Linked DNA regions of Homo sapiens: all the other regions are linked to region 4. The links come from fine-mapping of genetic effects on gene expression. A gene starts in region 4. Each other region holds a variant in brackets. All regions are shown on one strand. Distances are between the middles of the regions.

Region 1 (5,836 bases), 270 kb after region 4:
TCATTAAAGTCAGTCAGCAGATAATAGATGGCATTAGAATATTTTAGTTTTTGAATGAGGAAAAAAATAAGCCGCAGCAGCAGCTTCAAGACACAGAGAGATGGCAGACAGGCCCCCAGGGACCACTCAGTGCTAAACTTCCCAGATAGAGACACCACTTATTTTCGGTAGACACTGATTAATCAGCTGGACTGAATTCATGAGTGTAGTCTGAAAAGCCACAGAACTTTCTAGTAGCAATTTTAAATGCCCCGAAAGGCATAGGCAGGACTGAAATTGAAAATGGAAACCATCAAAAAATGTCACTGTTTGATAGTGTTTAAGCTACTGCCAGCTGTGGAGATTCTTTAATTGTCAGAAGATAAAACTTTTCAGGCATATCTTATAAGAGATTTATACCCTGATTTGTTCCAAAAATGGACTCATGGTGATTCACAAGGACAAATTCAAATACCAAAGGAAAAACATTTAAAGACAGAGGGAAATGGATTCAAAACAGTAACTACACACACAAAAATGCTAACGGAGACCATGGTCTAGGAAATGGGAAGTCTCGTCATAATTGACAAAAGCCTCAGTCTCCAGGAATTGTTAAACTTGTTAATGAGGATCTCATACAGACTCAACAAAAGGCGAAGAAAGTACGGCAATTTAGGAGGTGTGGGCTGCACCACTGCTTTTCAAAAGGAACTCCATTGTTGAAATCCCATAGAGGTTGTCATTTTCTCCTAAGAGGACTTGCTTCTAAAGATCCTTGTGGCTACATAATTCCTTAAACAGATGAAAATGGGAGACTGGCTTTTCTGGTTGTGTTTCTTTTAGGGTAGAAGGAAAACAACTGAATATGATGTGAGACTTTATGGACAAGAAAGTGAAAATAAGCTGTGCTCAGCCTCACACAGCCTGACGCGCTTGTGGGAGGTGCCTGTGGTGCCTGAGCTGTGTCATCAAGGCCCCGGACCCCTGAGAGCTTGCACCTCCCTATTTAAACAATCAATGAGCCTGTCCCCGAAGGTTTCAGGTCAGCTACAGCTGCTCCTACTGGATGGAATGGGAAATAGAAGGCTTTGGTGGTAAGGGGCGGTGTGGGCTGGCGCATGCTGAGAATGTGCCAAGCGGCCTTTCCACACCCCAAATGCCCACCCCCAACATCCATCAGCCTTCTTGTGAAGTCCAGCAGGCTGTTCTTGTGAAGATTCTATGGTGGAACAGTAGTTATGAACAGTGACTTAACTAAGATGTCAAATGCTCTTAATAAATTTTAGTAAGTTTTTTGAATTGTGTGCTATATGTTGTTTCATGTTTCCTCAAGTTTAGTAACAACTACCTCTTCCTACAGGACTTCCCTTAGACTTTAACAAAACGCACCATAGAACAGTGCCCAGCTTGGAGAGGTCTGTGGTCATCAGGGAAAGAGGGACTGAAGAAGACAAGGGGCTGTGGAGTGGATGCAGGGTGTAGGTGGGGTAGATGTACTGCTATAGGGAGAGAAGAAAGGTGGTTTCAGCTCAGGGCAGTTCTGGGGAAGGAAAAAGAAGACCTGATCTATGAATGGCAGAGTGCAGGCAGCAGCCCAAGACACACTCCACTGACTTCAGATGTCAGGTTCCTTCCCACAAACTCTGAACTATCCTGCCTACCTCGCCTCCTCCTGATTTGTATAGAGAAGTGGTCCCAACTGTCAGGCATGTGTCTGGCCACTCTCTACACCTCGCCAGCCTTCTCTCACTGGACTCTCCATTTCCCTTTCATCCCCTGAGCTTCCTGGCACCCTTGTCCCTGCCTCCC[G/C]TTCTCCAGGACTCATCTCCTGTAACCCTTCAACTCCAGTTCTCCCAGTGACAAAGAGCCAATTCTATCAATTCTTACTAGCAGCCTGCTAGTCTCCAGAAGAAATACTCTTAGCAAAATCTGAGATAAAATCTAATCCCTGCCTAGGCCTAAAACCATGAAATATTATCAAAACTCTACATAAGGCTTACAAACTATTAAGACCAAAAGCACAAATACAGAGATAGATGCACTCTCTTCCAGTACAGAAACTGCCACTTTCAGCTTCCTTAGATTTTAAATTTTGGCCTCATCTTTATTTGCCTGATTTCATTCCTTTGAGATATAGTTGGTATTTGCAAATACAGGAAGTGTCTAACTTTTGCTTGATTTAAATAAAGTTTTAAAACCCTGAACAAATATAGTAGTACCCCATGTAAACTATAGCGTCGACTTCTAAAGTTTGAATACAATTCCAATACTCTGTTAAGTTGGCTTATATTATGTCACGGCTAAAAGAGAATTCCCCTCACAAATGCAGTTACTATTTAGTGGGAGATTCTGTAAAACTCAGCGTCAACAAAGCTCTTCCAGTTATGTCTCCTGCTTCTGGGACGGCCAGGACCTCTCCTGTACCACCCCTTCCTCTCCCTTTCCCCCAAAGGCACCTTTCAGAATTACTCTGAATGATGGAGCCCATTTTTTTCTAGAACTATAGGAAAGCTGCTTGGTAACTATGGTAACGAATACAAAAATGTTTTTTACTTATAATTGAATGCTTATTTAAAATTACAAGTATTATTTTTTCTTCCTTGAGTTTTAAGTCTATTAATGGGTTTGATTACAAAAAAGAAATCAGTACAAAGGCATCAGAAGTACTTAAAATATTCTAGTTTAATGCCGCCAGCCTTTTCCAAACTCAGTCCATCAGTATACCAAAATGACCTACTAAAATTTCAAATGAAAGGATTTAAAATGAATTTAAATATTTGCCTTTCTAACCCTATACGTCAACGCTGTAACAAGCTAAGACTGTTTCTCAGTGTTAGCAGCCTTGGCCATAACAGGCCCGAGGCAGATGTCCTAGTTTCCAGGCCAGGGTGTCTAGGACGTGACTGGTTATCAGCTCAGAGCAGCACTTGGAACTCACAAGGGACCCGGGCTAAGGAGATATTAAATCTTAAATCTTAGATATTAGATATTACAACTGAGAACTGTAATCAACATGATATACAGAGGACACTGAAGAGACGTACAACTCAGTTCCTGATGATTATCATATGCCCAAAAGCTAAGTCACGACCACATGCACAGACACAGAAACAATGCTGGCCACTGTCTACAAAAGGGTCTTCATTCAACACTCTCACGGTGTTCAAGACCATTAGAGGACAAGATAGTGGAGATGAAAAAATGATGAGGAAGTTACTATGTAAATAGCCAAGACACAGCCATAACTTAAGACAACAGAAGGGCTAGTGAAAAAAAAAAAAAAGACCACAGGGAATAATCAGTAAGACTTTAAAGAACAACATATAAGAAGGATTCAAAGTTCGAAGTGGGATGATCACGGGCAGACCTGGGTGGTTGGGAACAGGAAGCATATGGCATCTTGCAGGCTATAGGCACCACAAAATGGAACGCAGGAGGACAGGGGCTTGGGAGAGCCACTTCACTGTCGGGTAAAACAACGGAGCAAGATGAGTGCCTCCGGATGCTTGGTTTCCCCACCCTCCAGTGTCTGCTTGCTCTTCAAGTACCTCCACCAAGCTAATGACAGTCCACTTTAGGACATCACGGGCCTCGAGGTTACAACTTTCCCAGGTAAGGAGAATCCCAGGTAGAGGCAGCAAGTCACTGATGCCTGTGATATGATAATTATGCATGTCATAGAAAAAGAAAATACTGACAAATGTGAATGTAGATCACATTTTCTGGAATTGGTTCACTCTACCTGTGATCCATGTCCAAAAGCCAATTTAAGGAAAGAATTTCCACTGTAAAACCTTAAAGCTGACAGCATTCTAAGTATTTCAAACCAACTGGTTCAATAAAGATCAACTACACGGTCAGTACCTATCCTAAAGTTTACAATTTGTGTTATTGTAACAATATTTATTTCTGCAGAAGTTCTGTCCTCACCCTTTTTTCTTCCTACAGATCTTTGTTTTTTTCTCTTTCTTCTTGGGATCATAAAAAAAGAACAGATTTTAAACAGTCACATAGTGTTTCCTCTCAGAGCAGATGTGGTAGGAAGAACTGAGGCCAAGAGAATGACAGCAAACTCAGATCACAAGAGAAATAAGACTAAGAAATGTGGTGAGGGGGATGAAGAGTTTTTTTACTGTGTAAATTATGTAAATGTACATATGTATGTATGTAAATTACACCTATTAGTAATAACAACAACAAGATGAGTCAGTGTCTCTTGGTCCCAAGAGATTAAACAATTTCAGGGAGATGCACGTGTAATCCTCAAGAAAGCACAAATGGAACAAGAACTGACAATTGTTGTATAAAGGTTTTCTGTTACATTTAATCTGGAGTTCCTGGATGATCAGAGGGAAAAGACCTTCCTAAAACTAGGCCTTTTCCACAAACCACGCCCTTGGTGTCTGTGAAGCAGCAGCATCTGGACGTGCCCTGTGTTTCCTGTCCCGGGCTGTGCTCCCGCTTGGGTTTGTGGATGTGGCAGGAGCTGCCTGAGGCAGCTTCGAGGCTGCCCAGCCGGGCCATGGGTGTGGCAGCACATTGGCAACTGCCAGGGTCTGGACCCCAGCGCTGCAGGTCCTGAGCAACTCCCGTCCCTCAGAGAGAAGACAGGACCTCAGAGAGGCTCTCAATCTAAACAAACTCAGAAGGCACTTGATAAATGCTGCTAGTAATATTATTAAAAGACTGAGAAATAGAACATGCATACAAATATAGTAATTCATAATAAACCATAATTATCAAACGGACTAGACATCACACTGAAGATGCTTGGTCAGTACATTCGTATATTCATAGCTGATACTGTTAATTTCCTAAGGCTGGGACAGAAGAAGAACATTATTTTAGGATTAGGTCAAATCACTTTAAATTTGTAGGGCTGGAACAGGTAACTATTTTATCTTACTCTGAACTGTCATTATTTTCAAGATTGAATGGAAAGCAAAGAAGAAAAAACATTTGTATTAGGGTTCTCTAGAGGGACAGAACTAATGGAATATATATATATGAGTTTATTAAATATAAATATTAAATATATTTATATATAATATAAATATATATTATATATAATATATAATATATATTTAATATATAATATGTAAATATTAAATATATATATAAAGAAGAGTTTATTAAGTATTAACTCACATGATCACAAGGTCCCACAATAGGCCATCTGCAGGCTGAGAAGCAAGGAGAGCCAGTCCAAGTTCCAAAACTGAAGAACTTGGGAGTCCAATGTTTGAGGATAGGAAGCATCCAGCACGTGAGAAAAGATGTGGGCTGGGAGGCTAAGCCAGTCTCTCTTTTCACATTTTTCTGCCCACTTATATTCTAGCTGAGCCGGCAGCTGATTAGATGGTGCCCACCCAGATTGAGGGCGGGTCTACCTTCCCCACCTCACTGACTCAAATGTTAATCTCCTTTGACAACACCCTCACAGATACACCCAGGATCAATACTTTGTATCCTTCAATCCAATCAAGTTGACACTCAGTGTTAACCATCACAACATTTTTTTTAAAATTCAGAACCCCAACTTTTCATTAGAATTAAATGGACAGCATTTGAAAAATACAAGGATGGGGCTCCATCCCAGAAAATTAAATAAAAGCCACTGGGTTGGGCCTGAGCCTCTTGGGGCTTTTCCAAAGCCCTCGTGTGGGCAGAAATGAGAATCACAGGTTTGGGGAACAATCCTAGTTGCTTGGGAAAGTATCACACAGTCAACTCAAATCCTGGAGATTAAATTCACTAGAAGTGCAGCTAGAGCCCTGTGACACCCACAAAGCCAGCCTGAGTCCCTGCTGGATACAGCTCACCAGGGGGGATGAAAAGCCAGATACAAACTTCCCCA
Region 2 (6,228 bases), 230 kb after region 4:
AGTGGGATATGTTTGACCTTTTCAAGGCAAACAGAAAGCCAAGTTCAAGGAGTCATCAGCCAGCTCCCTGCAACTTAGGTGGTCGTAAGGGACCTCTTGCCAGAGCTGCTTGAGGTCTCCCCTTTAATTTTGTCCACCTGGATGACAGTGAAGATGGGGTTGAACGGCAAGTGTCCCATGTCTGTCCTCTTTCTTCCATCTTCCCTCTCCATGCCCCTCAGCCCTCTATTTCCAGATCTTTATTTCCTTTCTGGGCTTCTGAATTAGAGATGGAGCTATGGAGACCTTGATATAATTTTGCTTTCTGTGGGAGAAGAAAGCAGGAAGTTTGATTTCTCAGGCCAAACTAGCCTCAGTGTAAATACCATTTGCAGGTTCTTGCCTATTCTTCTTCTTATTTATTTATTTATTTTTGTTTTTTTGAGAGGGAGTCTCACTTTGTTGCCCAGGCTGGAGTGCAGTGGCGCGATCTTGGTTCACTGTAGCCTCTGCCTCCCGGGTTCAAGCAATTCTTATGCCTCAGCCTCCTCAGTACCTGGGACCACAGGTGCACGCCACCATGCCCAGCTAATTTTTGTATTTTTACTAGAGACGGGGTTTCACTATGTTAGCCAGGCTGGTCTCAAACTCCTGACCTCAGGTGATCCACACTCTTCAGCCTCCCAAAGTGTTGGGATTACAGGCGTGAGCCACCACACCCGGCCTGTTCTTGCCTATTCTTTGGGGAAGCCACCTCGACATGGGGTACACTCGGAGTAAGAACACATGGGTTGGGTGGGCGTGGCTCACGCCTGTAGTCCCAGCACTTTGGGAGGTTGAGGCTGGTGGATCACTTGAGGCCAGGAGCTCAAGACCAGCCTGGCCAACATGGTGTGACCCTATCTCTACTAAAAATACAAAAATTAGATAGGCATTGTGGCTCGTTCCTGTAATCCCAGCTACTCGGGAGGCTGAGGCATGAGAACTGCTTAAGCCCAGGAGGCAGAGGTTGCAGTGAGCCAAGACTGCACCACTGTACTCCAACCTGGATGACAGAGCAAGACTCTGTTTCAAAAACAAAAAACAAACAAAAAAAAAAAACACAAAAAAAACCATGGGTTTTTTGCCCTAAGTCTTACACTGAGGAGCCGTTTCTTCATCCTTGGGTAAGTTGTCAAACTTCCCTATCTGTGAAACTCAAGGGTCCGTCTGACCAGCTGTCCTGCCCTGATGTCTCTCCCTGTCTGTCTTTCTGCCTGAATGCCTGATCCAAAGCAGCTTTCTGCTAGATATCCCTTTTTATCCCCATGAATATGGAGAGCTGCTTAGAAGAAGAATCTTAGCAGAACCCTATTAGAATTTGCTTCGGTCGTTTATTGTCCTTCATGCATTTCATTGAAGCTAAAACCTGTAAGATTTTTGGAGGCTTCTCAGGTAATGGTATGCGAAGGTCAGGATGGTTAGATACCGTATTTCCAGATGCTCTCTGCTCTTTTATGCACTTACGTTATTTAGGAACTTATTTCAAGCAGACCATTTGAGAATCTGAGGAAAGCTATGGGTCCCCAGAAGATTGCTTATGCACATACGTTAGAAATTGCAGACAATTCCAGGGAGCTCCCCAGTCTTACGATGTTTATTCACAGCTTTCCCTGTTAGGAATTTATGAACCGTCAGTTTGTGATCCTTACTTTGAGTAAACATCTGAATAGCCTAGCCTGTGTCTTAATATTATTGATATTGCAGAATCAGTTATCAAGTACCTGCAATATGAACAGCACTGTGTTTATATAGTCAAGTGATATTTTGAACTTTGTTTTTATCTTAGTCTAATTGCTTGGGTGAGATTAGCTATTAATGCTTTATTTTTTTAATGTGCTAAGAGATGTTGAGGAACGTTAAATAAATAACAACCCCTAGATGGCAAATAAATTATTAGGTTGAGACCAGAATAGATTATATTGATGATGGTGGTTAGACATCCCCAGATTTTTTTTTCTTTTTTTTTTTTTTTTTACTCTGCACTTCAATGGATGCAAACCCAGGTTGTTAAACACCAATCGCAGCATTACGTGCTGGGATGTTTTGGCATTTTGAAAGTTTTATTTTCTATCATTAGTGAACAAAATGGGTTTTTTTTTGGAGTAAGAATTTTAACATTTTGATCCCAAACCAAACTTTTATGGATCTCTTTAGTAAAATAAATAGCTGTCTGATGGACTAGGAGGGGTGTTTTTTATGCTCAGCGTAAGGGACGCTCAGGTGGCTGTGGCTCCTGTGTTCCCCGGCAAGGGCGTTGCCAGTGAATTTCACCCTTCCCCTTTCCATGTCAGCAAATTAGCTAAGCCCTTGTTGTCGTTCGCCCTTTTTCTTTTAAAGAAGTAATAGGCACAATTACTATCTAATTTTGGCTTGCCACTGTGTGGGTGCCTGGAATCTCATCCGATCTTTAATATTTACCCAGGGGGGTGGGTGTAGTGTCGCATTATTCATTCACTCATTAAATCCCCTTCACCGAGGCCTGCTCAGATGCTTGCCATTGTTCAAAGTTCTGAAATCGTCACCTGGCTGCCTTCTGTCAATATTCTTGCGTAGAGATTGTAGTCCAATGAAAACCTTGTACTGAGTGAAAGAAGATGTGTTTGAGTTTCAAGGCATTTTCTGTGCCTTTCATGACTCATAGCAGATTCTCACCTTGTGATAAAGTTCCGGCTCCACAGTGGTGGCTGCTTTTGCTTTTGCAAAAGTAAGTTGTGAGAAATTGTTCTGAGTCATTTTGCAATTTCCTCTATAGACTCAGCTAAGAGTAGATGTGTGTGTCATGAGTAGATGTGTCTGGAGTTGAGGGAGGAGGGGTCATGGAAAAACTCTGCCTGGAAGTGCTTCATCCAGGTACACATGATGGTATTTTCACCATCTCAAACACTAGCTTCTAACTGCTGAAGGTTAAGATGGGATCATTCGTTTTGTAAATCCGTCTCCTGCTGTCTTGATAATAACATGAAGAAAAGGGCAAGAAAAACATGGATGTGTCATTAGTATGGAAGGAAGGAGGAGAATGGAGGTTTGTTTTAAAGGCACCCCCAATTCTCTTTCCCTCTTTCATCCTTTCGTTGGTTCTTGCCCCTTCCACACCCCGACTGTGTTTGTTCAGCCTCCAGCGCATGCTGCCGCCTCTGCTATTCACCTGCCTTTGCGCTCTCTCATTCTTTGCTGCCACCTGAGTCCTCTGGTGTTTTCAGAAAACAG[C/T]TGGCAGAGGAGGAGGCTCTGAGATGTGCAGTTGCTTAGAAGGTTCTGGCCTGGCATCTGCACAGCGGGGATTTCATCACCAACTGCTCAGAAACCACAAATGCTGCATGCCTGGAGGAGTCCTGCCATCTTCCTACCTTGCATGCCACTCTCAGCTGGTTTTGGGATTTTCTATTTATTTGTTTGTTTGTTTGTTTGAGATGGGTCTCGCTCTGTCACCCAAGCTGGAGTGAAATGGTGCGATCTTGGCTGACTGCAACCTTTGCCTTCCAGGTTCAAGCAGTTCTCCCACCTCAGCCTCGCATGTAGCTGGGATTACAGGCATGCACAACTGCACACAGCTAATTTTTGTATTTTTGGTAGAGATGGGGTTTTGACATGTTGTCCAGGCTTGTCTCGAACTCCTGACTTCAGATGATCCACCCACCTCGGCCTCCCAAAGTGCTGGGATTACAGGCATGAGCCAATGCACTCAGCTGGGATTTTTAAGAGTTTATTCCCTTCTTGGTTCATTCAGGCATAGATAAAGGGCAGTCTGAGGGCCCGGGTGACACACCCATCAGGACAGGTTGGTGCTCTGCCTTCCTCTCATTTGAGCACCGAGGTCTTGAATTTGGGGCTTATACAGATGAGTTACCAAGATGGGGAAAGGTGGACCATCAAGCAGTAATACAACGTGAGGCTTACAGGTAACTTCTAAGTGTGGGGCTTTAAAGAAAGTCTCTGTTCACATTCTGTCACCCTCACTCTGTCTCTTCCATCTTTTTCTTGCCTGAGTGTCCTGGTTCTGCTGCCTTCTCTAGATCCCCAGCTCTTCTCACCACCAGGGATACCTGGCTTTGGTTCCCATGTATTTATTGATTTCTATTTTTAAGAAGTTTGATCAAAACTGTCAAGTTATTTATTGAAAATGATAGTTGTCTTAGTTTAAATCTTATTCCATTTCTGTTAGAAGTCAGTGTAGATTATAGAGTGGTAAAGTCTCAGATAAATACTTATATAAATAAAGATAGGTATTGTTCCATATAAGATTATCATTATTTTGAGAACCTGTTGATGAGGGTGCCAGATGTGACTGTTGCATTACTCAAATCCAGCAAAAAACACTGAACAAAAACCATAATTAAAGGGGCACACAGGGTATCTGTGCTCACTTTAAGGCAAGTAGCCCTTGGCAGTACCCCTGCTTAATTAAGGTTGCCAGGATATTAACATGTAATTGATGTTTTATATACTTATAACTTTCCTCCCAGAAGCTACAATTTTTTTGAAACCAGATTCCAAGCATTGTTTTAAGCCAATATTAGAAGAGAAAGTGTAGGGCTTTCTAAGCATGAAGAGGATGTGATTTCAGACGAAATCATAGCACCTGGACCCTGTCTCCCTGCCCCCATCCCATTCTTCATAAGCGATGAAAAGCATCTTTGATCCATGAAACCTGAAAAAGCAGCCATCAGTAGAAGTAAGTGTGACGGCTGAAGGTGTCATAAGATACTAATGTACCAGTGGGGAATGGGATGCAAGGCTGCTCAGCCTCAGTAGCCCCCTTGGCTGGCTGAGCATCTTTGTGGGCTCCGCTTTTAAGTGGAAACAAAAGATTGCTGATGGTAGGTTGGGTGTGGTGGCTCACGCCTGTAATCCCAGTACTTTGGGAGGCCGAGGCAGGTGGATCACTTGAGGTCAGGAGTTTGAGACCAGCCTGACCAACATGGTGAAACCCCATCTCTACTAAAAAAAATTAGCTGGGTATGGTGGTGCACGCCTGTAATCCCAGCTACTCAGGAGCCTGAGGCAGGAGAATCACTTGAACCCAGGAGGCGGAGGTTGCAGTGAGCAGAGATCGTGCCACTGCACTCCAGCCTGAGCAACAAGAGTGAAACTGCATCTCGGGTGGGGGCGGGGGGCAGGGAAGAAAAAAAGATTGCAGATGGTGAAATTTAAATGCTTAAAAAAATCTTTAAGAACTCATAATTTGCCTGCAACAAATTCAGGTGGTGACATAGTCCCTTTCATTCCCCCAAGTCAGAGCCCGTGCCCCTGTGTGTCTGTCCCCATCAGTGAAACTGGGGCTTGGTTTCTTCTGGAGAAGAATAATCCAGGGCAAGTCAAGCTGTTTGTTTTGCGCCCCTGTCTCTGTTGCTGAGTTGCTGTCACCTTGAGTTGGCTCTGACTGTCCCGTGGCGAAGGCCATCCCAAACAGCACATTTGCAGTATGTGCTCGGAGAGTGGGATACATAAGAAACAGGAGAGTTAACTAGAAGGATTTTCCCTCCTGCTCTACTAAGTTGGAAAGGAAAGTAGATGTTTGTCTCTTAATTTGCTGTTGCACAAAGTGAAAAGATACTTGGACCAGAATTGCTGGAGCTTTCCATGCACTCACAGTGGGCTTTGGAAAAATCATTCACTCCCTTGAATCCTTATTTGTTAAGAAAGTGGGATTCCATTTCCACAACTGTTTCATGGCTGTGAGGTGAAATAAAGACTAGGCATGCGGAATGGCTTTGTAAACTGCAGGGGTGCTGAGTCAGTCTGCGGAGACTTAGCCCATGGCGAATACAATGTGTTTTAAATACATCACTTCATTTAAACCCGTTTTCCCCACAACCCTATTGAACAGATATTACCAGCCCCATTTAGCATGAGAAAACTCAAATTCAGAGATGTCAACTAGCAGGCCAGTGTGTCCTAGGCAGTGACTGTACCACGGATCGCGCCCAGCCCTGCCAGCTTCTAAAGCACTTCTTCCCATGACACCACACTGCCTCGTAAGGAGAATATGGCACTGCGTGTAGAAGAAAGGGGAGAAAACTGTATTTAAGTATCAGACTCATGGCATATGGGTGTATTTACTCTTCAATTGATTTAAAGGTAGAGCGACTGTATTTGTGAAATTGCAAGGTACGATGTTAGAAATCTGGACACGACTTTTTGGTTCTTTAGCTTAATTTACAAAGTTGGTTACACCCCCGTCGACAAGAGGAATCTGTGAGGATATAGAGA
Region 3 (6,228 bases), 250 kb after region 4:
TTACTGGGCTCCTTTTCCCACTGCACCTTTGGCACATTCTCTGGTTCTCCCTTGGAGCAGGCTCCCTCCAGGACATGTTACAACCCTTTCACCGAAGCCTTCCTGGACAACCGATTCTAAAATGCTGCCTCTATTCATTTAATGTTTATTATAACTCTTCATTTGTTCCACAGAAGTCTTTGTTGATTCCAGATTGCCTTAGGCTATGCTTTGGGGTTTCCAGCCTTGGTGAGTCTTACCTCTTTGTGTAGGAACTGTTTCTACTTCTTTGGAGAAAAGCAGGCCCTCAATTGATGACCACTGAATTGAACTGAAAGACTAGCCAGAGATCAATGTTGAGTTTTAATGTGGATTGTATATTTCCATCATATGACAACACTGTGTTGGTGGGGGTTGGGGCATAGAACAGAGAGGGCAGTTGAGAGTGGCCTCTTTTTATTTTGGGGTGCTTCAGTTTGTCAAGAGACAGACTGTATAAAAAGCATGCATCAGGCTACCAAGTTTGACCAACATGCTTGTGTAAGCTTTCTGCAATATCCAAGGAAAGAAAATGAATTATGTGAATATTAAGAGATGCTCCTGAGAAGTTCAGCTTCTTACCCAAGACAGAGATGGATAGAGGTCAGGCATGAAGGCATTTAAGCTGAAAAAAGGAGAGTTTTTTAGTTGACAGTCAGAAAGTTGCTGGCTGTTAATGGATGCCAGTCATTTGTGTTGGGACTCAGCTGCGTTGTTCAGTAAGAATTTCAGTGCAGCAGAGGTGGGCCGAGTACCTCCTGTGCTGGCCAGTGAGCTGGCTGCTGGCGGAGATGTGAAAGAAAGAAGCCACCCTGCCCTCACTGGGCTTCCAGATGGGGAGGTGGTGAAGTGGGGTGGAGATGTGAGGGTGGAATGGAAAGAATGAGAAGTAAAAGGACACTTTGTAATCTGACCCTGCTCCAGCAACTGTGGAAGCGTTTCACCTGTGAGGCTTTCCAGCCAAAGTCTGGTGGATACAGATAGGCTGTCTTTGAGAAGGCGGAAGCACATGGTGCTTCTGTCTGAATAGGAGCTTGTGCCAAAGGCCAGTGGTCCCCCCAGATGGTCATGTTCCTTCTTGTCTCTTCATCTATGTGATTCCTTTCCCATGACTGGGAGCGAGTATTTCCTCTGAGCCCACATTCCCTAGGCCTGGCCCTGGCTCCCTGCTAAGACCAGCTTAGCTCCCTCCTCGCAGAGGTTTCCTCTGGGGCTGGTTGATCCCTGGCCTCTCATCCTCGCCAGGCCTTATGTGTCCTCTGCTCCCTGCCTGTGCGCTCTGCAGGGCTCTGCACCCCTTTAGGGTGAGGGTGTTACCATCTTCATCTGCTTCTACTCCATTACTAGCATGTGCACCAGCTCAAGAGTTTCTCACTCATAATTCTACTTGCCACAAGACTGTGGAGCTGAGCGGTTAGACTGGAGGGCAGAACTCCTGGCCCACTGTGGCCAGGTCGTCCTGTAATTGCTCTTGGGCTGTGCCTCTCTTGAGTCTCTCCGGGCTGTTCTGTGTGGGAGATGGAAAACTGGATTAGGCCAACCATTGAGGGGACTGGGTGGGCCTGTTGAGGCCATCTGCTCTTGTTGCTCCCTAGAAAGCCATAACTTCTTGATTTCAGAGCTACCTCACCTTGACTGCAGAGGGTTAGCCCTAGGCAATGACTCTGTAATTTCAGGTCCAAAGATACATCTAACAGCTGATGTGACAATGGAGAGCCTCGTGTGTAAACACTGAACATGAGTGTGGGCGCACATCTTCCTTACTCAGATCCGAAATGATAGCCAGAGGGGTTTGAGGTGAATGAAACCCTTTGCCCTACACAGAGGCCCCTCTGAGATCCCTGCTGAGCACAGACGGAGACACTTGGTGCCCTTGGGGGCAGCGGATACTATCAGGGAGAGGCCCGTGCATTATTTTCCACCTCTTGTCCTCTCTCAGAGTGCTGAGCAGATCACTGCACTGTGCAGGAGTTTTAACGACAGTCAGGCCAACGGCATGGAAGGACCGCGGGAGAATCAGGATCCTCCTCCGAGGTCTCTGGCCCGCCACCTGTCTGATGCAGACCGCCTCCGCAAAGTCATCCAGGAGCTTGTGGACACAGAGAAGTCCTACGTGAAGGTAAGGGAAGAGCTGGCATTTATGCATTCGTGCCTCTTTGATGATGGCAAGTGGTATGCTGGCAGAGGTCCCCAGATCACCTCTGCCCAGGACACCTGCCACTCCCCAGGGGGGGACACCTGCTCCTTGAATCAGTGAATTGCTCAAGGAAGGGAGGGGAAGAGTGAGAGGGTGGAAGAGCTGAGGAGACTCAGAAAAAAATTAGATCCTTGGCTTATTTTGTTACCAAGGTAGCTTTCACTATGGAAACAGATGTTCTGGTTTGTCATTTGCAATCTGTGGGAAGGGAGTCTGTACTGGTTTAGTATAAGGGGAGAGAGATCACTTTAGGTGATGAGGAACTTGGGAACAATCTGTACATACGTGACGGCTGATCCAGGCCCCACAGTCTTGGCGGTGGCCCGGGCCAGCCCTGCCTGGTGGTTGTCATCGTGTAGAACTGGGACGCACACACTGGGGAGTGGTCAGCACGTGGGAATATCCTTGCACCATTATGAAGGGGCAGTTGCCGAGTATCTTGAGTACCCGAAGAATTCATTTATCCATCTCATAAGCCCCCAGTCAGTGGTTTGAGAAAGATTTTATGAAGAATACTGGAGCCTGGGGAGCAGAGTTCTTTTGCTTTGTTTCCTGGAGCTTTGGTACCATTTGAAGCTCGCTTCATTTGTCAGTTACTGAAGCAGCGCGGCACGGTGCGGTGGGCTGAGGGTCCAGGCCCGGCTTTGCCTCCCTCTGGCTGTATGGTGGATGGCCCCCTTCAACTCCCTTATTTGGGGTCTGAGACACTCGGTCCCCCTTCTCTAAATGTCTTCCAACTCTGACGTGCTGGGTCCATGAATTAAGGCTTGGCACACACGTGCGGCTATTACCTTGCTCTGCAAGACAGATCTGAGCTTCCCCCTTTTGTTGATGTCGCTGTTTTACCAGGACTTCACCTAAGGCCCTATTCACAGGTAGCTTCCCAAAGCCCCTTCTTTTGGCCTCAGAGGGGAGAAAGGAAAGTTAGGAGAGATGACAGTTTAGTTTCATTTTCCATTATGTCTTGTCCTGCATCCAGGGTGTGGAGATGAAGTGAACAGCCAGGCTGTTCAGACTCAAGTTCTGAATAATCCCATCTCCACAGTCACCTTTTTCCAAGTCGCTGTGTGGCGCTGTAGATATTTTGGAAGCTTCAGAGCCCTTCTGACATCTTGAGAATAGTCATGGAGCTCTTGCCCCAAGAGTTAAGGGCAGAGTTGAGAGGAGAATCGATGTCCCTTTTTGGTAATAGTGTTGTTAGAATTTCCTGTTAGGCCACGCTGTACTGGGAGGGTCATTTCAGTGACAGGCTGGCAGAGTACTCAGATGGTGTCATGGGTGAAGTAGACAAGGACCGACTCTCCCTTCTCTCTGCAAGAAACCTGCACTTTGTTTTCTTAGGGCCCCCCTGGGTTGCAGCCCTTTGCCCCCCGCAGCTCTGCGCGGACCTGATTTTGCTGTCCAGGAAGTCCTCCCAGGCAGCACCAGCCTGTGAGGCATGACTGCCAGGCCCCAACACCCTCGGACAAAATAACCCACACTTGGCACCTGTTGTGATTCACACACACACCACCGTTTCTTCATTTCTTTTTTGTTGCTGACGTTTAACACAGAATCTTGTTGTTTTTTAACCTGGATCCCCTGCATGCTCCTTGAAATTTTTGACATCTATGTGTTCCCTGAGAT[A/G]TGATTCAGTAACTTCCATCATCTCCCTTCTCTGAGCGGTCTGGCGTGGAATATGGTGAGGGAAGGCCAGGGAGGTTTTTATGGTGAAAGCATCCGTGTCACAGGCCTTGCCTTTTGCTCTCTGAACTAAGGCCAGAAAGTTCTGGGGATGCTTTGGGCTTTATAAAGCTCTGGGTCTTAGGTTCCCCTCTTGGGAAGTGAGGGAGTTATTATAGCTGACTTTGCAGTCAACTGCTTCTAGTATTTTAGGACTCAAAATTCTTCAGAATAAAAGAGAAATCTTTTCTATCACTGAACTATATCCTGGTCTTGCCTTCAAATTATTATTATTATTATTTTGGAGATGGAGTCTCGCTCTGTCACCCAGGCTGGAGTGCAGTGGCATGATCTTGGCTCACTGCAACCTCCACCTCCTGAGTTCAAGAGATTCTCCTGCCTCAGCTTCCTGAGTAGCTGGGACTACAGGCACCCGCCACCACACCCAGCTATTTTTTTTTTTTCTTTTTTTTAGTAGAAACAGGGTTTCACCATGTTGGCTTGGCTGGTCTTGAACTCCTGACCTCAGGTGATCCACCCGCCTCTGCCTCCCAAAGTGCTGGGATTACAGGCATGAGACACCATGCCTGGCTTTGGCTTCAAATTATTAAACAAAATCTTTCGCTCATGGGTTTTGTAACTGCAGTCTACTCCCACTATACTGTCCTGCTGGAACCTCGTTTGCAAGACAGCCAAATATGGCTTAGAGTTTAGCCATTAGAGCTGCAGCTCTGTGGGAGTTTTTTATTGCCTTTGAATATGTGAGTTTGAGATTCTGTGAATCAGTCAACCCCAAAGTTGAAGGGCTCCCCAGAACTTGACCCTCCCAGCTCCATGCTGGACCTCTCACTGTGCTCCCTGAGGCAGAAGAGGCCAGGAGCTGGGGTGCACCTGACACCAGTGCCACCCAGACGCCCTTCCTCTGCAGGGAAGTGAGTGCCCCTGCTGCAGTGGCCTGAAGAAAGGGTGTTTCTGTCACCAAGACACTTACCTAAGCAGAGGGAATGATCGAGCTGTAAAGGTGTGGAATCCAGCTGTTGCCTGTATTGTGATATTAAACTCTTTGAATTAGGTGAGCAATAATCACTACTTTTGGGGTCAGGAATTTCAACAAAGGCTGGGTGTGGTGGCTCACGCCTGTAATGCTAGCACTTTGGGAGGCCAAGGCAGGAGGATCACCTGAGGTCAGGAGTTCGAGACCAGCCTGACCAACATGGTGAAACCCTGCCCCTACTAAAAATACAAAAATTAGCTGAGTGTGGTGGAGCACACCTGTAGTCCCAGCTATGTGGGAGGCTGAGGCAGGGGAATCTCTTGAACCCAGGAGGCAGAGGTTGCAGTGAGCTGAGATCATGCCACTGCACTCCAGCCTGGGTGACAGAGCAAGACTCCGTCTCAAAAAAAAAAAAAAAAAAAAAAAAAAAAAAAGAATTTCAACAAGGCATAAACTTCATTATCCTGATGGGAGCCTTGGGAGCTGCTGCCAGGTTGCTGCTACCCAAATCTCATGGGTATTTTGGAGACTAAAGCGTTGAAGACACTTTCTTCTATTTTCTTTCAGGATTTGAGCTGCCTCTTTGAATTATACTTGGAGCCACTTCAGAATGAGACCTTTCTTACCCAAGATGAGGTAAATAAAATCACCTTCCTTCTGTCCAGTGATCCACAGGTTAGTCTCTGTTTGCCTTTTAGCAGAACTCCTATGAGAGTATCTCTGTTGATCCCAAAAGAACATCCCAAGACTTAACGGTCTTCTGAGAGTCCCAGGCATAGCCTCCTCCTAAACCACTGCTGTGGCCTCGGCTGCATGACCCAGTGGCAGAGTGTTTACAAAGGCAGAGGGACGGTTATGGTCTTTTTGAGGTAGAAGAGAGTGTGATCAGAAATTCCTTTTCAATACATACCTTTGTAATGTGAAACCACATAATTAGTTCTACTGACTTACATTTTTCTTAATTTGAATTCTGAGAATTTTACATCCACTTAAAAATTTACTGTAGTAATAGAGAATTATGGGGGATGGAGCTGTGAAACTTTCTATGTATAAGCCATATCCCATAATGAATGTGCTGTCTTCTTAAAGGATTTACTTTCTGTCTGCTTTTCCGTGAAGAATTTCCTTGTGATTTATTTGTGGGCCTAAGAGTTAGCGTGGTGTCCTGAACTTCATGGCTAATCCCCTCATTTCAAATCCTGATCTTCACATAGATGGAGTCACTTTTTGGAAGTTTGCCAGAGATGCTTGAGTTTCAGAAGGTGTTTCTGGAGACCCTGGAGGATGGGATTTCAGCATCATCTGACTTTAACACCCTAGAAACCCCCTCACAGTTTAGAGTAAGTATCTCAGATTT
Region 4 (6,228 bases):
ATGCAATGGCGTGACCTTGGCTCACCGCAACCTCCACCTCCCGGGTTCAAGCGAATCTCCTGCCTCAGCCTCCCAAGTAGCTGGGATTACAGGCATATGCCACTATCCCCGGCTAATTTTGTATTTTTGGTAGAGACAGGGTTTCTCCATGTTGGTCAGGCTGGTCTCTAACTCCCGACCTCAGGTGATCTGCCCGCCTCGGCCTCCCAAAATGCTGGGATTACAGGCATGAGCCACTGCGCCTGGCCTGCTCTTCCCATTTTCTTTTGTCTTTCTTACTAACCTAGTCAATCCCCCACTACTCCAAGTCCCGTTATAGTTAATAATTCTTTGTATTAAACTTTCACTGTTGAAATCATTGTGTAGCCTCTCTCTTGGTTGGACCCATATGTACACACGTGGGTGGTATGGGAGCTCAGACTCTGGTTACTTGGCTGTCAAGGGATGGTGTCTCACAAGAGGAGAGGAATTAGAGCCATCTGGGTTCTATATATTTTTTCAAGTTTGTACAACAAACATGTTACTTTTATAATCAGAAAAATATTTTAAAATAGTGCGAAAAATGCAATAAAAGAAGCAAGAAAAATAAACACATACCAGCACCCCCCCACCCCCCGTCTCAGTGTGGTAGGTGTGAGTCAGAAGTAAGAAGTAAATAAGTGTTGGCCGGGCGCCATGGCTCACACCCTAATCCCAACACTTTGGGAGGCTGTGGGCAGATCACTAGAGGTCAGGGGTTCGAGACCAGCCTGGCCAACATGGTGAAACTCCGTGTCTACTAACAGTACAGAAATTATCTGGGTGTGGCGGTGCATGCCTGTAGTCCCAGCTACTTGGGAGGCTGAGGCAGGATCACTTGAACCCGGGAGGTGGAGGTTGAGCGAGCTGAGATCGTGCCGCTGCACTCCAGCCTGGGCGACAGAGACAGACTCCATCTCAAAACAAAGCAAGCACCGCCCCCCCCCACCCCACCCACAAAACAGTAAATAAATGTCAAGGAAGAAAAGGTCTTTGGAGGTGATGCTTGAATTGAGCATGGAAGAGTGAGTGGAGTGGGAAGATATTTTCCTAGGCAGAGCCAAGTGCGCAAAGATGCAGACAAGACCAGGGGAGGGCCTACAGAGTGGGAGGGGCCAGTCACTACTAGTTCGGTGTGTACAGAGCCTGTGGTGGTTGAGGGTGGAGAGCAGGTCTGTCCGATCCCCGCAAAGCCTGGAGGCTTCCTTTTGATACTGGGTGTGTTGTGGGAAAGCTGATTTCATTTGTCTTTTTGACTCACAGTTCTCCACGGATCTCCCGTTACGGAGACTGGGTCGTATTCACGCACTGCACCTAACTGACCAGGGCCCTGGCTGCTGTGCTCTGAACTCCAGCACTGGGATTGTGCCCAACGCCACCCTTCCCACCTGGCCGCTCCCAGCCAAGGACTGGTGGCGGCATGGACACGAAGGCAGGCAGGTTCCGGGGAGAATCGGGATCCCCATGATGCGTAATTTTGGCTGAAGGGCTCACGGATGATCTTGCTGAGCTTTTCTTAGACTGCAGGGAGGCCGGGATGGGTGCTTCCCTCCCTCCTTCACTTGGGCTCTGATTTGCAGAAGGTCCGGCCCTCTCCAGCTCTCACGGCTCCCTCCTCATTTAGTTCCACGGCCATTTCCCCCAAGAAAACCCTCCGCATCTAGTCCTGAGTGGGCGCTGCTTCTCGTAGGACCCACCCTAACACATGGCCTGCATCTACCTTCCCTTCCCTCTCCTCTCCAGGGTGCAGCCTTTTTCAAGGCGAGGAGAGTGATTCCAGGCAGCTTTCATTCCTGGGTCTCCTTAGCTCCCTCGCCCTTCCCAGCATCTGGGCCCACTGGGCCACTCAGGCTTTTCTAATAAAAATCGCAGCTTTGGCCCAGTGCGGTGGCTCACGCCTGTAAGCCCAGCACTTTGGGAGGCCGAGGCGGGTGGATCACCTGAGGTCGGGAGTTCGAGACCAGCCTGACTAACATGATGAAACCCCCATCTCTACTAAAAATACAAAATTAGCCGGGCGTGGTGGCGCGTGCCTGTAGTCCCAGCTACTCGGGAGGCTGAGGCAGGAGAATCGCTTCAACCCAGGAGGCGGAGGTTGCGGTGAGCCGAGATCACGCCATTGCACTCCAGCCTGGGCAACAAGAGCGAAACTCAGTCTGAAAAAATAATAATAAAAATCGCAGCTTCTCCACCTGGAAAGTCCCAATTCGACTGGGTCTTGGAGTGCCGACTCGATTGCCATCTCCGCTGCGAAGCCATCTCCTCTCAGAAGGGGAAGGAGATGGAAAGTCTCTGCGGCCGCTGACCTCAGTTTTGCGTGCCTTTCCTCGGTGGGACCCGGGAAGAGCCGTCTTTAAATTCCTTGGGGAAGGGACGGGGTCGCACTGGCGCATCGCATCCCCGGTAGCGGGCAGAGCCCCCAGCTCACAGTGAGCGCGTGCTCGATGTTTCTTGAATTGTTTTATTTGTGTTGTTCCAAAGAAAGCGCGAGGGACATGGTCCGGGACCAGCCGGGAGCTGGCGCGGGGGTCCTGGGCCTGACGCTGGGCGGGGCTGGGGCGTGTCCGGGGCGGGGCGGGGCGGGAGGTGCGGTCGCGGCTCGGGCCTGGCAGGCGCTGCGCGCGGGGCTGGGGCAGCGGTAACCGTAACTGTGGCCGCGGCCGCCGCAGGCGCACAGCGCGCGTCCAAGTGGAGAACAAAGTGACCCCCAGAACTTCTCCAACTCCTCCCGGCGTTCCCGCGAGGGCCACGCGCCGAGGGTAGCGGAGGGCGGCGCGCGACCGGCCCCACCGAGCCCGGCGCGCGACCCGAGGTAAGGGGCGCCCGGGTGAGGGCGCAGGAGGGCGACGACCCGCGCTGGTTGGCGGCGGCTCCAGGTCCCCTGCGGGCGGGGCGGCGCGCGGCCGGCGGTCCCCTCCCTTCCCCTTTGTTGGCCGCCCCTCTCTGCCCCCGCTTTCCTGGGAGTCCCGCGGAAGGTCGCGGCTGCGGGGCGCGGCCTGGCACCCTCTCCCCGGAGGGCGGCAGCGTCCGGGCACAGCCTGGCACGGGGGACGAAGCACTTTCCAGAAGGCTCTGAAACTAGGTCCCCTGGTCCCCTCGCGCTGCGCGACACGCCAGGACCCACTTTCAGCCCCGGTCCCATCCCGGATGGGAGGAGGCGGCGCCCCGGCCTCCTGATACCGAGGTTCTCGCCCAAAGCCGAGCCGTGGGTGCCCGGAGGGGAGCGCCCGCTGCGCCCACGCCCGCCCGGCGACCTCGGAGCCTCAGAAAGGCGCTGCGGCGAAGCAGGATCCCAGGCGGTCGGCTCAGCGAGTGTAGACCGTGCGGTCCCTGCTCAGCCCCTCCGGCCTTTCCGAGCGCGGGAGCCATCCCGGACGGGCGCGGCTCCTGGGGGGGCTGAGGTGCCAAGTTTCTGTGAAAGCCGACACGTTGTGCCCCTAATGGATCCTATTTACCAAAAACAGTTCAGAAAGAAAAGAGTCCATTCTTCCAGCCATTCGTTGCTGACAGCCGCTGGAAAGGTCTGGGAGTAACATTGCACGAGGTATTTCTATCTTTAAGGAGCGGCGAAATTTAATATTGATGAGCTTGCATGCCGTTTTTTTAAAATAGACAAATAGGTTAACTTTATTTAAAGAGGGAGAAGGCTGCTTGATTCCAAAGATAATTTCATTCAGGGGGAGGTTTTCCTGCTTTTCTCTGCAGAATTCAGGCAAGAGGCCACTTGGTGACACTCCTCAGCCTCCTTGGGTAATGGTGAGACCTTTATTTACTATGCGATGAAGGGCCTGGGATTCTCTTCTCATGGTTATTCACACATTCTACCTTTTGCTCCCCAAATGATGCTGACCACCTTATTTTAACAGACAACACCGGCTATCTCCAGTTCTCTTTCCAATAGATTTAAGCCAGAGTGTCTCTAAAATCTTACCAAGTTTCGTACAGGTGCGGATCATATGCTATAAATGTTTCAGTCCTAGGCTCTGGATAAAAAAGTGTCCATGGTTTTATAATTTGGGCTTAACCAGTAGAACTTGTGTGTATACACTCTTAGAAGTATTTCCTGATGTGCTTAAGATTGTTATGTTTTAAAAATATAGTATCATGATTGGTGCAGTTTTGTAAGCAAACTTTTGTTCCACCGGATTTTACCTGCTCACTTTATAGGAAAATAAAACTTGTTGCTTTAGGGTGTCAGAGGTTTTTGTGTTGGGTAAATGTAAAAGAACATGGCAAGGTATAACTGAAGAAGAGTTTATTATTTACTGTGGCAAAACACGCCCCTAATGACCTCAGAATCAGCTTTCAACACCTTCACATACCATACTAAGATGCTTCATAATGTGGCACCTGCCTGCCTTTCCAGTTCCATCTACTGACTTTCCCCAGGCCTCCTGGCTCTCCCCCGCTTGCACACTGCCTGCTCTAGACACACCAAGCTACTCAGAAGTTGTTATTTCCAGACCATTGTTTGGAATGAATGAAATTCTGCTTACACTGTTCTTACTCCTCTTGCCCATCTGTCAATTACCCACGCATTCTTAATGTGTCAGTCAAATACCTTCTCTAGGAAGCTTTTCTTCCTTATCCGTAGGCGAAGTTAAGCTCCTCCTCCTCCAGTAGTCAGTGCTTCTACTAGAACACATTTTTGTATATACCTCTGGCACTGCCACCTTGCACAGTTGTTCAGGCTGTTCACTACACAAGGTCATCTTGTCCAACAGGCAATTGGAGGCTGAAATCCGATTCACACTCCACTTGCCAAGCCTCTAGTGCGCTCCTCTCCATTGGAGAGGATACATTTGGCAATTTAACCAAAAGTACAGTATGGGTTAGTAGTGACCCTAAGCCTATCCCCACTACTGTACTTAGCATCCATCACTTCAACTGATGTAATAGGAGCTCAGTTAAGGTTCCTAGGTTCCGTGAACGAGTGAAGAAAGAATGGATTTTTTTTTTTTTTTTTTTTTTTTTTTTTGAGACAGGATCTCCCTTTGTTGACCAGGCTGGAGTGCAGTGATATGATCTCAGCTCACCGCAGCCTCAGCCTCCCCAGCTCAATTGATCTTCCTTCTCTGCCTTCCAAGTAGCTGGACTACAGACGCGTGCCACCACACCTGGCTAATTAAAAACATTTTGTAGAGAGGGGGTTTCGCCATGTTGCCCAGGCTGGTCTCAAACACCTGAGCTCAAGTGATCCACCCTCCTCAGCCTCCCAAAGTGCTGGGATTGTAGGCATGAGCCACCGTGTCCGGCCAGAAAAGATTACTTCTCACGAACTCTAGAAAGAAGTAAGAGTTTGGGGGCAGATTTTTTTTGTATAAGTCAGTATACAGAAATCTGCTTCAGTTTGCTTTATCTTATGTCTGGGCTGTTCAAATGATGCTTAGACAGATGTCTTCTCCTTGATTACAGGGAAGAATCTGCGAGTGTGAATTCATGGGTGGGCGTCAGGGATTTGTGTCAACATGTGGTGCTTTGTCAGCTGATGACTTTTCTAGCCACTCAGGTTTACGTGTCTAATCGTGATTTGCTAAGAGAGATAAGGGGGCAAGAAACTTGCAAGTAAGGCCCTAAAGAGCTTTGCTCGCATAAACATGTGCTAATAAATTGCATTGGAGTGCCGTTTTGTATATAAGAATTTAAGCCATCCTAAAGTGAGATGTCACAGAATTAAACTAAGAAAGTAAGAAGGGTTTGAGTCTGATTTATTTAGGATCTCCAATGAGATCAGTATTTAATATCACAGTTTTATGCATGAAAAATGCAGTTTTCATTGGGAAGGGGCCATTTGCAAGCTGAATTGGCTGCAAGAGTTGTAAAAATGCTCCAAATTTTGTATGTAGTTAAAAATTAACAATTTGTGGGGTGATCTGGTGGCATTTTTCAAGCTACAATCAATATGTGAATTATCATGCAAGCATTTATAAGATTGTGATATAAAATTATATACTTGTAGATGTCAAAAGTGTTTGCTAGTTATATGGAATCTTGGAATCTCTAGAATTCATAACATTGGAATAACTTTAAGGATAATATGGATCAATTCTCCCATTTTATGGGTAAGGAAACTGAGTCCCAGGAACTTATCCAGGGTCACTGAGCTTGTGTAGAGGCATAGCCAGGACGAGCTTTCAGATTTCCTGGCTTCGACTTCATATTCAAGTACCTATAAGAACAGCCTTCTGTATATTCCATCATTGGCCTCAC
Region 5 (6,228 bases), 330 kb after region 4:
CTGAAAATCAGGCCCTGAGGCAAGGGTGTGGATGCAGGTTGTTTGTTTAATTGCCCCTCCTGGAGAGGTAATCCCAGGAAGCACAAGTGAGGAAGTCGGGAAAATGCCATGGGAAAAGGAGAAAGGCCAATTCCAGGGGTTAGGGAGTAGTTTCATGTTAGGGCTCCAGGGCAACTGGGGCTCAATCCCAGGGGATCTTTTGAAAAACCGTGTGCAGCCCAACTCAGCATTGTCCCACCAGAAGCTGGGGAGGCTCCAAAGCCCCCAGGCATGGAAGACAGCAGGGGAGGTGGGGAGCTGTCAGTTTGCCTGGATCACAGCTGCAGATGAACTCAGGAGGACCATACGGATCTGGGGTGGGGCAAAGCCAGGCAGCATCCGCTACCCTCTGTGAATCTTATTCACCTGAGTTTAGGAACTCAGAATTATTTAGAGTGATAAGGACTCTTCAATGTTGTGGATCTTTCTCATGCCATAAAGAGGATTTTGAAGTTAGTGGACAATGTGAAGTCATCCCTAACTTGCCAGAGGAAGTGTTCAAATCCAAGTACTGAAATTCTAGAATCAAGACATTTTGAACCAGAGATGAGTATTCTTTTTTTTTTTTTTTTTTGAGACGGAGTCTCCCTCTGTCGCCCAAGCTGGAGTGCAGTGGCGCGACCTCGGCTCACTGCAAGCTCCGCCTCCCGGGTTCACGCCATTCTCCTGCCTCAGCCTCCTGAGTAGCTGGGACTACAGGTGCCCGCCACCATGCCCGGCTAATTTTTTGTATTTTCAGTAGAGACGGGGTTTCACCATGTTATCCAGGATGGTCTCGATCTCCTGACCTCGTGATCCGCCTGCCTCGGCCTCCCAAAGTACTGGGATTACAGGCGTGAGCCACCAAGCCTGGCCAAGTATTCTCTTTAAACTGAAAGAAGGCATAGTTAGAATTTCTAATTGCCTTTAATTAAATCTATCACCTCCTAAGTATAAACAAAAGTGGTGAAATATTTTTGGATATACCAACAATGAACAGTTCATTAATGAGAATGAATTTTACCTTTCTGACGGTTCCCATTACATAACTTTATTCATTTTGAGGAAGGCAAGGGCTGACCATTTTATGCTCATCTACTATGGTCACCTATTAAAGGCTGGAATTATGATAATCCAAGGGGGAAAATAAAATATTTAAAATGAGATTGGTCTAAGTAGGAGAATGAACATCAGGCTAAGTGTTAATTTTGTCCCATTTAGTCAGCTCCATAAATCTTGAGAAGCCATTTTTCTTCTCTGTGCCTCAGTGTCCTCATCTGTATGTTAGAGGGCTTGGATTGGCTGATCCTGAAGGTCACCTCCAGTTCTGAGGTAGTCCTTGAAAACATGAGGACTGAAGCCTGGCCTAAGGCATGGGTCTTATTGTGGTATTGTGGACTTGACCAAATGTTAACCTTTCTGACCTTCAGTTTTCTCCTCAGAAAAATGAAGGGGCTGGGCTATTCTTTAAGGACACCTCTGTTCTGCAGTCCAGATAAATAAAAGTGTGAGGGGAAAAATCTGGAAAAATGCATAGAGTGAAGCTCAGCATGGCCACTGGGTGGCGATCTTGTTCCATGTTAAGAAAAATTTTATGGCATTTACCAAGAGTTTCAAAGTTTGACTTAGCATAGTGAAGAAAGACTTTCAAAAGGATAAAAAAACAGGGCAGCAAAAACCAGAATTATGGGGGAAGTGACAATAAACAGCAATGCCAAATAAGAGACATAAAATCCCTGTAGCCAAGGCAGTAAAACATAGAGGGGTATATGAGAGTTGTGTTTTGGGTATTATTTAAAGGAATATAGGGAGAGGAGTACATTGTAAATTCACATAGTTTTTGAAAAACATGACATAAAAGTTAACTCTAACATTTAAAAATTAAACTTGTAGAATTACCAAATACCTTAAGACTGTGCTAGAGTACTGAAGTCTAAACTTGAACAATCCAAACCAAATCAGTAAACATTTGTTATTTCTTTTGTTTAAATCTCAAAGGAACACTTAAGGGAATTGTAACACTGTTCCAATCTTTTGATATTAAATCAAGTGAGCCAATGAACAAGTTGTGAGCTTTTTTGCATTTTATGGGAGGAGGTGGTCTGTCTCACTTACCTTGAGAATCTTGGGATGATTGTTCCTGGGGCTAGCCATTGCCCCTGCATTGGGTTGAGGGCCATTTCTCGGGGAAGAGCCGAGCATTGGGAGGAATGCAGAGGATAAAGGTTCTCTGATCATAGTGCCGCCCACCTCTATCTCTAGAAAAGGTTATATTCAAAGAAAAACACAATTTTCCCACCAAAGCACCACTCGGCATGAAGGGAAGAACCCAGAGACTCGAAGAGGACCAGGTTCACACTCCTGAAGATGGCAGATTATGTCTCATGCAATAAGCCGAGATCTGACAGCCAGAGGATGACTAGGCCACAGTCTGCCATTTCCTGTTGTTGACTTTTCTGTTCACCATCCCCTCTGGTTTTCTCCCAGTTAGTCCTTATCCTCCTTTTGCTAGGTGGATACAGGTTTCTTCTGAGGGCCAAAGCCTGGGCCCTATTGCTCTGGTTGCCATGGCTGTTTCTTTTCTCTCCTTTCCTTTGATACATTAGCTATTAGCTTACGTAATCCTCTCACCGGTGGATGTTCCCATTCAAAAGGCAAAAAAAAAGTTATATTGCTAAG[T/C]AACCTTTAACAATGAATACCATTCATTATGTATTTGCTTAATGATACAAAGGCATTGTTTGCTCTATTGCAGGTGATAACAGCAGATCAAAGACCCCGAGGCCGCCGGAATGTGCTTGAGAAGAGCCAGCAGAGACTGTGTGGAAATTATGCTTAGCATTTATGTTGCACTTTATACTCTTAAAGGATTCTGCAATTATTAATTAATTATCCCACACAATAGCTCTATGAGGAAGGTCAGTGTCAGTAGCTTTATTTTACAGATGAAGAATCAGATAGCAGTTAAGCGATTCCCCCCTTCCCACCTCAACATTTAAAGATCTCATGTCAAAGCAGACCTGGGGTGGGGGCAGCAGGTAAGTTACAAAGTGACTGAAGAGTAAACAGACTAGGGCTGCCTCTTGCCCAGGCTCCACTTCCTTTGATCTGTCTTTTGAAAGCCCTCTGAACATAAGCTAGGTTCTGGACTTGCATACTGCCTCCCTGGGCAGCCTAGTTGCTCTTGCTGTGCTTGTCTTTTCTACATATCCACTGTTGTGTGTGTAATTTTAATTTCCTTTTCATTCATTCATTCATTCATTCATTCATTCAATGAAACTTATTTGGGCATTTATTGTAGTTGATTTGGTTAGGAATATAGAAATGAAAAACATGATTCTTGCCTTTGAGGAACTTCAATTTCTTAATAGGGACACACACAGACACACACTGCTGGAGGACATGGGATGAAAAAGGTGTTAATTCTTCTTGGCAGCATCACGAAGGTCTACACTGAGGAGATGGTGTTTGAGCCAATCTCTTGATAATGCCATGCTTGTGATCCAAGCAGCAGGATCCTGATGGTCCCTAAAGGAGAGATGATAGAAGGTATCCTGAATGTCGGCGACTTCACATTTGCGAAGGCCAAAGCCTGTTAGGTCAGGCCTCCTGTTGGCTAGTGTGATAGACTCTTATCCTATAGTGTTTTAATTATTTGTGTGAATGTTTTCCCTTTTTACGAGACTAGAAACAATTTTAAAATGAGGACAAATTCTGACGGCCCACAGCATATTGTAGGGAATAACAGCAGGAATAGCTACCATGTATCGAGTAAATGAGCCTATTCTGTTTAGTGCTTTACATAGCTGATTAAGCCTGCCAAAAACCTTTGAGGCAGTATTGTTCCCCCACACTGTTTTTTTTTTTTTTTGGGAAAGTTTAAGTAATTTGCTCATAGCTACATAGTTCTGTGTGCTATTGAACAAGCTTATAGTCCCCACATGTAGCTTATAGTCCACGGCAGAAGACAGACATTAACCAATAATAACCATATATCAATGTATAATTACAACCTGTAATAAAGTCTCTGAAGGAAAAAACAAAACATGCAGTATAGGAGAAGCTAGCACAGAATGACCAGATCTGCCCTTGGGCCAGTAGACGTGAGGAGAGATATGAAGGAAAGGCCAAGGTCAGGGAGCGCGTACCTGGAGGTTCTGATGGTGAGGCTGAGTAATGAAAGATACGTGGGTGTTAGGTAGTCCAAAGAGAAAGCATGTGCAAAGGCCCTGGTGTAGGAGGGAGCTGGGAGTATCTGAGAATCAGCAGGCAGGTCTGCTGTATAGAGGAGATGACTGGAGAAGGAGAGGTGGCACATCTTGTAAGATTGTGTAGGCTAGGATAGAGCTTGATGTTTAGAAATGATAGGCATTGCATTCGCAGGTTTTAAGGGAATGCATTCTTTGATGAGATGAATAGTCAATCTGGGTGCAGTGGGGAGAGCAAATGGGAGAGGAGTCAGAGTGTGAGAAGGGAAAGTGGTTAAGAGGGTATTATAGTAATTCTGGGGTGAAATAATGGTGAGGCCAGGGTGGCAATGGTACACAGGGTGAGAAACATGTGTGTGAGATATTTGCAAAGTCAAGGACAGGTCTTGGCGATGGGTGCGAAGAAGTGGGGTGGGGAGGGAAAGGAAGGTGTCAAGGCTGATTCCCAGGTTCCTGGCTTGGACAGGTGAATGGTTGGAGATATATATAGGATGTGGTTTTGTATGCTGGAGGGGGACCAGGAGTTTGAGAGGAAGGGTTCTTGAGTAGGTGGCAGAGGAATAATTTGAATCTAGGTCTGTTTTTCATCAAAATGTGCTTCTCATCAATTCCTGAAACATACACATATTTTTGGAAATCCACACTGAATGACTCTTCCATCTTGCTAGTTCTGATCAGCTTCTATTGTCACCACTGTGATCTTCCGGAAGAAATGCATTCACTTTTGTTGCATAATCAATAAGTGACATCGGTGGGAGAAATGTCCATCCGGACCGGAAGGTATGGGAGGTCCTTTTTGGGAGGTGATACCTGTAATTCCTCAAACCTTGCTATTCAGCAGTGAGAGTTACGCTGCCTACGTTGAGCTCTGGCTCAAACTGCTAGGGTTTGAATCTTGCCCCATGACTTGCTATCTCTGTGATGTGGGCATATTGTTTAACATTTCTAAGCCTCCCTTTCTGTAAAAAGGAGATAATAACAGTATCTTCTCCATCATGAAATTGGCTGAAAGATCAAGGCTGCTGCTAGCCCACAGGACACCTTTGTGTGAATTAGAGAAAGGCTCTCATTCCTCAAGTGAAAAAAGAACTTTTGAAGTTAGTATATTATATACTATCATTAATTACAATTATACAAACATAAAGTCATTCTGAATAAATACTGTACATCAAATGATTAAACAATGTAATATTCATTTTGAATTTTTAATTACAATTAGAAAATCAAATTTATAGATAACAAGTCAAAAATTTTAACAGCAGTTAATTATAAAATTTCCATAGCAACAAATAAACAAGTGCTCTAATATAATCAGCAGATTGTTACATAGTAATCTCTAATTTGTCAATTTAATACATACTTTGTATATTATTGATGCTAAATTATATTAGCTATTACCTAGTTATTTGTATCATAATGAAAATGCCTGTATACTTAAAATAGAACTCTGCTATCTTACTTGAGTACAGAAGACAAGTGCCAGAGTATATGAAGTATAAAGATTTGAAAAAAATTTAAGATACTAATCAGTTAGTACTTCAGTGAGAAAAAAATCTTATTTAGAAATGTAGGTTATTTTGAATGTTGTTAGATCATCAAGATCTTTTAATAATCAAATATATTCTTCCTTTGTAAGTCCAAGCAAAATGTAATATATATCAATCCTATTAAGTAAGACATTTTACTGCCACCTGTCAGTAAACTATCTTCATAAATATATAGCTCTGTCATCTTTAAAGTTAGCCAAGTTATGATAAAAATATGAACAGTCTTCAAAATGATAAAAAGGGCTATGATGTGACAGTCTTTTTAGTTGTGCTACTCTCATGCAATGTCCAACCTAAACCATTGTATGCATTGGTGCTGGGAAGGATTACAAGAGATAATTCTATAAAGTACTTTATATGCGTAAGGACTATTATACACTGAGTGATCACTGGATGTTAGTGTTTTATTTTTTATTATTAAACCTATGTTGTAATTGTGGTGTTTTAAAATGCCCTAG

The links.
Region 1: its variant is fine-mapped to the expression of TIAM2 in whole blood (TOPMed, PIP above 0.99).
Region 2: its variant is fine-mapped to the expression of TIAM2 in whole blood (TOPMed, PIP above 0.99).
Region 3: its variant is fine-mapped to the expression of TIAM2 in whole blood (TOPMed, PIP above 0.99).
Region 5: its variant is fine-mapped to the expression of TIAM2 in whole blood (TOPMed, PIP above 0.99).

The regions. Positions count from the first base shown.
Region 1 is chr6:155,260,698-155,266,533 of GRCh38, forward strand. All of the region lies in intron 5 of TFB1M (transcription factor B1, mitochondrial), which reads right to left. It overlaps CLDN20 (claudin 20), which reads left to right and starts at 3,316. Exons shown (of 2, transcript NM_001001346.3): 1 at 3,316-3,591. The variant G/C (reference allele first, on the strand shown) is at 1,789.
Region 2 is chr6:155,221,550-155,227,777 of GRCh38, forward strand. The region is part of intron 15 of TIAM2 (TIAM Rac1 associated GEF 2); the gene reads left to right. Among named protein-coding and RNA genes, the nearest start is that of CLDN20, 39 kb to the right of the region's middle. RefSeq lists an enhancer at 2,205-3,404. The variant C/T (reference allele first, on the strand shown) is at 3,229.
Region 3 is chr6:155,238,573-155,244,800 of GRCh38, forward strand. It overlaps TIAM2 (TIAM Rac1 associated GEF 2), which reads left to right. Exons shown (of 27, transcript NM_012454.4): 16 at 1,958-2,137; 17 at 5,439-5,507; 18 at 6,086-6,211. It also overlaps a transcript of TFB1M not described here. Among named protein-coding and RNA genes, the nearest start is that of CLDN20, 22 kb to the right of the region's middle. The variant A/G (reference allele first, on the strand shown) is at 3,842.
Region 4 is chr6:154,992,663-154,998,890 of GRCh38, forward strand. It overlaps TIAM2 (TIAM Rac1 associated GEF 2), which reads left to right and starts at 2,653. Exons shown (of 27, transcript NM_012454.4): 1 at 2,653-2,830. RefSeq lists enhancers at 2,547-3,154, 3,155-3,760 and silencers at 2,601-2,740, 2,831-2,910.
Region 5 is chr6:155,326,119-155,332,346 of GRCh38, forward strand. No RefSeq gene overlaps it. Among named protein-coding and RNA genes, the nearest start is that of TFB1M, 15 kb to the left of the region's middle. The variant T/C (reference allele first, on the strand shown) is at 2,698.